Homo sapiens: one gene and its partner. The protein of the gene in region 1 interacts with the protein of each later gene in a pairwise test. Each region holds a gene or a part of one and is shown in the gene's direction. Other genes may lie near its edges. The genes, in order: ZMYND8 and RERE.

The links.
Region 2: the proteins of ZMYND8 (region 1) and RERE interact in a two-hybrid assay, tested with the Homo sapiens proteins (one large-scale study listed by BioGRID and IntAct).

Annotation. Positions count from the first base shown.
Region 1 is NC_000020.11:47,245,086-47,248,894, reverse strand, and holds part of ZMYND8 (MYND-type zinc finger-containing chromatin reader ZMYND8), read left to right. Parts: intron 1-2,377; coding exon 2,378-2,887; intron 2,888-3,809. UniProt on the Homo sapiens protein: Chromatin reader that recognizes dual histone modifications such as histone H3.1 dimethylated at 'Lys-36' and histone H4 acetylated at 'Lys-16' (H3.1K36me2-H4K16ac) and histone H3 methylated at 'Lys-4' and histone H4 acetylated at 'Lys-14' (H3K4me1-H3K14ac).
Region 2 is NC_000001.11:8,359,476-8,363,284, reverse strand, and holds part of RERE (arginine-glutamic acid dipeptide repeats protein), read left to right. Parts: intron 1-440; coding exon 441-602; intron 603-1,408; coding exon 1,409-1,522; intron 1,523-1,794; coding exon 1,795-3,173; intron 3,174-3,298; coding exon 3,299-3,521; intron 3,522-3,809. UniProt on the Homo sapiens protein: Plays a role as a transcriptional repressor during development. May play a role in the control of cell survival. Overexpression of RERE recruits BAX to the nucleus particularly to POD and triggers caspase-3 activation, leading to cell death.

The DNA of each region.
Region 1 (3,809 bases):
CTCCTCCCCACCGGGCAAACCCTGCTTCTGTAGCTGTTGCCTTTCTTCCTCTTCCCTGTGCTGCCTGCCTTCACACTGCCTACCTGAATCCTGCCTTCTGTGAGGCTGAGCTCAGATCTCACCTCCTCCAGGAAGTCTCCCCTGACTGCCCTCCCCATCTGCCCTCCTCCTTTGGTACTTCATTGCTCGGAAGTAGCAATGGTCCCTTTGTGTGGGGGTGTCCCTCCCAATCTAGACTGGAAGCTCCTTGAGGGCAGGGAGGCCGTTTTATGAGGATTTGCCTTCTCTATGGTACTTGGTCTGTGCACATGGTAGATGCTCTGGAATGTTTGTTGAATAAGTAAGTAAAGCTAGGAGGGCATTTGTAAAGAAGTGGGGGATGGCTGGGCCTCTGGAGAGCAAGCTCCTCTGAGTGTCAGTGGGTGCTCTGCATCTTCAGGTGAGAAAGCAGCTAGAGTTAGGGACCCATCTGGGGCTATCCAGAGGACAACAGCTCCCGTTGGGTTGCCTGTTTGGTGAGGACATTGGGTGGCATGGGTGAAATTTGGCATGCCATTTAAATAATCCTCTTGGGTCCTTCCATGCAGCTGGCCCAACTCTTGATTTGTTTTTATTGCTAATAAGAATTTTATTATTTCCATTTACTGAGTGTTTCCTTGGACACTATGCTAAGCACTGCATATAGATTGTCTTGGGAGGTTGATACTTTTATCAGTCCCATTTTGCGGATAGAGAAACTGAGGCTCAGAGAGATAAATAACTTGTTCAGGGTCACACCAGTAATAAAAACAGAAAAGCAGGATTTGAATTCATGTCCTTTGGACTGCAGTACCCAAGCTTTTCCTATCACATATGTGCTTACACTTTTCCTTCTTGTTTCCAATCATTACCTACCAGTAGCACAAGCCTAGGATCCCAGAATTATACCAGATCTGGGTGTTTGTATTTTGGCTTGTGTTCTTCCTGTGTTGCCCTGGCTAGCCTTGAACTCCTGGGTTCAAGCAGTTCTTCTGCCTCAGCCTCCTGAGTAGCTGGGACCACAGGTGTGCACCACCATGCCTGGCTCGACTTGTGTTTTTGATTGAGCCCTGGTGGAGGCAGATACATTCCCCAATGATCCAGCTGATCCCCCATGCCCCGGGCTGTTCATGGCTCTGGTATTTTTGCAGGTTTCTTTTTGGTGTATACAAGTCGGACAGTGGCACCATTCACAGTGGCCATTGCTCTAGAATGAAGAGATTGCACAGACTTGATTGGGTTTTCTTTCCTCTTTCTAAAAGTTTAGGATATGGTATTATTATCTACAGTATGATGGCATAACATATGGTTGGGGGCAGGAGCCGTAAATGGGTTAAATGGAACTATTGTTAGAAATGTGCTTCTGCCCATTTTTGTTTGTGTGTATGAAACACCTGCTAGTTTGTGCTTCTTCCTTTTGAAAGAGACAGAAGTATGTGACTTCTCTCTTGACTCCTTTACCAGTGGAAGAGCAATGCACACCGAGTGGCAGTTGACTTTCCACGAGTGCAGGGAACAAGAGGGAGGGCTGGGCACCCGGGTCACCTGGAGACAAGTGTGTCCCCCGCCTAGAGGAGCCAGTGGCTTTCCTGTTCCAGCCAATGCCTGGCAGGCTGGTGACCCAGAGCGGCTAGATTTTCCGCTCTTTCATCAGAAGCCCCTGCTTTGATTTCTATATGAAATTTCCTGATTTGTGAGTTGGACAACACATTTATAAATTAAAAGCAGACAAGATACCCTGTGGGCCAAACCAGTGCCTCTCGCATGAAACATGTCTGCAAGCTAGATGTGGCTTGTGGGCTGTTTGCAACCTCTGCTTTAAGGCTTTGGCTTATTTTCTTTGGCCTAGACACAAAGGATCAAGAACTTTAACCCTTTGGAAACCCAAGGGAAGAGTGTTGGTGGGGAGCCAGGAACCCGGGGTTCTGGCCTGGCCTCTGTCTTGTGTCCTAGGGCAGGTGATATCCCTGGGCCTCTGTTTTCTAATCTGTAAATTGGATCAGTTTGAACAGCTTGTCCCTGCTGTTCCCTTCCAGCCCTCTTCATTCTCAATAATCCCAATTAGTTATCAACGTTGCAAAAATTTGGCACCACATGTTTAGTGCCATATAAATTTAAAATCTCCGTTGGTAGGTCCTGTGTCTCCTAACAACCAAAACCCTCTCCCAAGGCAAGTACCACTTGGCAGCCGTAGCCAGTTGCCACTTGAGATTATTACTGGCCCCATTTAGGCCAATGTGATGCGATTTGAAACGTGCTTTTCTTATTCCAGCATTTGGTGTGGAAAAATGTTTGCATTTTTCATCCTGCTCTTTATTTTGTGACTACGCCACATGCTGGGTTTTCTTTTTGAATTTAGGCATAAATGAAATCTCGGAAGATGTCTATACGGCCGTAGAGCACAGCGATTCGGAGGATTCTGAGAAGTCAGATAGTAGCGATAGTGAGTATATCAGTGATGATGAGCAGAAGTCTAAGAACGAGCCAGAAGACACAGAGGACAAAGAAGGTTGTCAGATGGACAAAGAGCCATCTGCTGTTAAAAAAAAGCCCAAGCCTACAAACCCAGTGGAGATTAAAGAGGAGCTGAAAAGCACGTCACCAGCCAGCGAGAAGGCAGACCCTGGAGCAGTCAAGGACAAGGCCAGCCCTGAGCCTGAGAAGGACTTTTCCGAAAAGGCAAAACCTTCACCTCACCCCATAAAGGATAAACTGAAGGGAAAAGATGAGACGGATTCCCCAACAGTCCATTTGGGCCTGGACTCTGATTCAGAGAGCGAACTTGTCATAGATTTAGGAGAAGACCATTCTGGGCGGGAGGGTCGAAAAAATAAGAAGGAACCCAAAGAACCATCTCCCAAACAGGATGGTAAGTGATTGTATCTGTTTCCAGTTTTCTTAATTTGGTTTAGAATCCTACCTCGTACACTTACTATCAAAAGTTATGTGACCCTTAAAGAAACAAATCAGAAGTTATGTGACCCTCTAACACACTGAGAGAGAGGCACAGTGAAGCTGTGTTTGGTTTAAGGTTGCCTAGCTAGTCATAGAACAGGACCTGGACTCAAACATGGGCCTGCCTACCTTTAACCTGCTCGGTATCCAGTATGATTGATTTTGAGTACAGAAAGAGAAGTCTGTTAGAAAATGATGGTTACTTTTAGTGACCAAGTCATTTTTAGTCTGAGCAGCTTCTTTTCCAATATGCTCATTTATTTCCCCAAAGTGTTTGTTAACATTTGGATCTTGTCAAATGGTCCTTCAGTGCTGCATTCCACAGACATCTCATTCTCTTTTGACAAGTCTCAAACGGTTAGGAGTGTTCATTTCAAGCTGGGCATGGTGGCTCACGCCTGTAATCCCAGCACTTGGGGAGGCCGAGGCGGGTGGATCATTTGAGGTCAGGAGTTCAAAACCAGCTTGACCTACATAGTGAAACCCTGTCTCTACTAAAATACAAAAATTAGCGGGGCGTGGTAGCAGGCGCCTGTAATCCCAGCTACTCGTGAGGCGGAGGCAGGATAATCGCTTGAACCCAGGAGGCGGAGGTTGCAGTGAGCTGAGATTGCGCCACTGCACTCCAGTGTGGGTGGCAGAGCAAGACTCCCTCTCTAAAAAAAAAGCAGTGTTCATTTCAAAGGTTTTGATGATTTCAGCTTTGCTTTCCTCCCCTCATGCCACCTAGGCATCTCCAAGTGTATTTTCTTACAGTAGTAGGACAGTATTTGGGTGATTGGTGCCAGAATACTGAGTGCTTCTTAGGGCACTAGAAAATGGAGTATGGTGGATAT
Region 2 (3,809 bases), on another chromosome or scaffold:
TGGGTCACTTCCTGTCCTGTCAGATTAAATCCACAAGTGTTTGATTTCATTTGGTTTGGTTGGGAGAATGGACGGTTATGAGGAATAAACAGAAAGGGTGTAGGGTGCTTTAAAGATGGCCCCAGGCGACTTTCTGCCGCTCAGAAAGTGTGGTTCATTTCCAGCACACGTTGTTCAGGACAGTCCCTTGGGATGAGTGCTTTAGGTTTGAGAACCGCCCTCTGGCGTGAGCCCACTGATTTCCCCACCTCTTCCCTGAGCTCCACACCGACCTTCATGCAGCCAGGGACAGGCAGGGCGGCCTGTTGTTTGCCAAGGTCTGGGATTTGCTGAGAGGCTGATAGGGTGTGCCTTCAGGCTTCTGCCTGTGGGTTGGGCTCAGGTGGGTCCACATGGGGACTGGGAATCTGGTGTCACCAGTCTTCGGTTTGGGTGGGCAGATGTCGACACTACGCAGTGGTCGGAAGAAGCAGCCAGCCAGCCCTGATGGTCGCACCTCACCCATCAATGAAGACATCCGCTCCAGCGGCCGGAACTCCCCCAGCGCTGCCAGTACCTCCAGCAATGACAGTAAAGCAGAGACAGTGAAGAAGTCGGCCAAGGTCAGGTGCTGGGGGGATAGTAGGGCCTACTCTGTCCCTCCCTCACATTAAAACTGGTTTGCTGGTATTCGTGATCAGCTCCCTCAGACACGAGGATGCAGCTCATTCATGGAGCCTGTCTGGACACCAGCATTGTCCTGGCCTAGGGGCTGCAGACCGAAGGCTGGGGGCCTAGAGAAGGGGGCTCGAGCACCAACTCTTGGGGGCCACCTCTGCCTCAAGCTTCCCAAGTTCTCAGAAAGTGTGGGGAGTGGTTAGAACGGCTCCCTCCAGAGCCAAGTACAGTCCTCCCTTGGTATCCATTAGAGATTGGCTCCAGAGCCTCCACCGCCCAGGATACCAAAATCCACAGGTGCTCAAATCTCATATACATCGACACATGGTTTGCATGTGACCAGTCACATCCTCCTGTAGACTCTAAATCATCCCTAGGTTACTTCTACTGCCCAGTGCAATGTAAATGCAGTTTAAACAGTGGTTCCACTGTCTAGTTCAGGAGATAATGACAAGAAAACATTGTGTGCACGTTCAGTATAGATGTAACCATCACAGTCCTGCCTACATTTTCAGTCCATGGTTGCTTGAATCTGAGGATGCAAACCCACAGGTGCAGAGGGCTGGCTCTCATTCCCACCCCCAGATACGTGTTCCTTCTTGGCCCCAGTTGACCCTTCTAGAGCTTTTTGCTCCTGGAGATGGAACTCAGAATGAGGGAGCAAAGTGTCTGCAAACCGTCATTTCCTTGCTGAGGCTGATGGGATGGTCTCCCTTGGCCTGATTGCTCCTTGTGGGCTTTTCCCCTGCAGAAGGTGAAGGAGGAAGCCTCTTCCCCTCTTAAGAGTAACAAACGCCAGCGGGAGAAGGTGGCCTCTGATACGGAGGAGGCTGACAGGACCAGCTCCAAGAAGACAAAAACGCAGGTGAGGTTTGCTGCTGAGCCTTGCTGAGTAAAGCTAATGCTTCTTCAGAAGCCCCCAGCCGGGGTTCTCCCTAGTTGGTGGCCGTGCCCTGTCTCCTAGGGTGGGGCTGGAGTGGCCTTTGACACTGGCTGGGTCAGGGCACGACCTGTGGTCCCGGAGCCAAGCTTGCTGCTTCATCTGCACAAACATTACTGTGTGTCCGGCACTGGTGGTGCAGAGCAGACAGGGCTCTGCCCTCCTGGGACTTCCATCCTTCCCTTCTCTGACTCCAGGAGATCAGCAGGCCCAACTCGCCATCTGAAGGTGAGGGAGAGAGTTCAGACAGTCGCAGCGTCAACGATGAGGGTAGCAGTGACCCCAAAGACATCGACCAGGACAATCGCAGCACGTCCCCGAGCATCCCCAGCCCCCAGGACAATGAGAGTGACTCGGACTCGTCAGCCCAGCAGCAGATGCTGCAGGCCCAGCCCCCAGCCTTGCAGGCTCCCACTGGGGTCACCCCAGCTCCCTCCTCAGCTCCTCCAGGGACCCCTCAGCTGCCCACGCCAGGGCCCACGCCCTCTGCCACTGCAGTTCCCCCACAGGGCTCCCCCACGGCCTCCCAGGCCCCTAACCAGCCACAGGCTCCCACAGCGCCTGTTCCCCACACCCACATCCAACAGGCACCGGCCTTGCACCCCCAGCGGCCGCCCTCACCGCATCCCCCGCCGCATCCCTCGCCACATCCCCCGCTGCAGCCTCTGACTGGGTCGGCGGGCCAGCCTTCTGCACCCTCTCATGCCCAGCCCCCACTGCACGGTCAGGGCCCACCCGGCCCTCACAGCCTGCAGGCTGGGCCCCTGCTGCAGCACCCAGGCCCCCCACAGCCCTTTGGCCTCCCTCCCCAGGCCTCCCAAGGCCAGGCCCCTCTGGGGACCTCCCCAGCAGCAGCGTACCCTCACACCTCCCTGCAGCTGCCAGCCTCTCAGTCAGCGCTGCAGTCCCAACAGCCTCCACGGGAGCAGCCCCTGCCACCAGCGCCCTTGGCCATGCCCCACATCAAGCCCCCGCCTACCACTCCCATCCCCCAGCTGCCGGCGCCACAGGCCCACAAGCACCCTCCCCACCTCTCGGGGCCCTCACCCTTCTCCATGAATGCCAACCTGCCTCCCCCTCCAGCCCTGAAGCCCCTGAGCTCCCTGTCCACACATCACCCCCCGTCGGCTCACCCCCCACCCCTGCAACTCATGCCTCAGAGCCAGCCATTGCCCTCCTCGCCCGCCCAGCCCCCCGGGCTGACCCAGAGCCAGAACCTGCCCCCGCCCCCTGCCTCCCACCCCCCTACAGGCCTCCACCAGGTGGCCCCCCAACCCCCGTTTGCTCAGCACCCCTTTGTCCCTGGAGGCCCTCCTCCCATCACCCCTCCGACCTGCCCCTCCACCTCTACCCCACCGGCGGGACCTGGCACCTCGGCCCAGCCACCCTGCTCTGGTGCGGCGGCTTCAGGAGGCAGCATAGCGGGGGGGTCGTCCTGCCCACTCCCCACCGTCCAGATCAAGGAGGAGGCTCTGGACGACGCTGAGGAGCCTGAGAGCCCCCCTCCCCCACCAAGGAGCCCGTCCCCGGAGCCCACTGTGGTGGACACCCCCAGTCACGCCAGCCAGTCAGCTAGGTACGCTTCCTAGGGCTCCAGGACGGGTCAGGCACAGGTGGGCTGGTGGGGGCAAGTTCTGGTGGGAGGGAGGGCCGGGGTGGGTCTCGGCAGGAGCTCCCAGCAAGATCTGTGGCTTTTCTCAGGTTCTACAAACACCTGGACCGGGGCTACAACTCGTGTGCCCGGACAGACCTGTACTTCATGCCTCTGGCCGGGTCCAAGCTGGCCAAGAAGAGGGAGGAGGCCATTGAGAAGGCCAAGCGCGAGGCTGAGCAGAAAGCCCGAGAGGAGCGAGAGCGGGAGAAGGAGAAGGAGAAGGAGCGGGAGCGGGAGCGAGAGCGGGAGCGCGAGGCAGAGCGGGCGGCTGTGAGTCCAGGGTTGGCGAGGTGTGACGGGGGGCGCTGGTCCATCCTGCGCCTGGGAGCCACGCTGGGCCACCGAGCTCTGCCCTTGGCTGCCTGACTCGGCCTCCTGGCAGCTAGAGGGTTGGGTGCTATTTACACCCTGTCTCCACACCTCTGACGGGTGCTGCACATCCGAAGCTGCCGGGGTAACTGCGCATGGCAGGTCTAGGCTGACTCCCAGCAGTGACTGTGCGTCCTCCTACCGGAGGGCCTTCGAGGAAAGGGCCTGTCCTTCTCCTGCAGCCTTTGG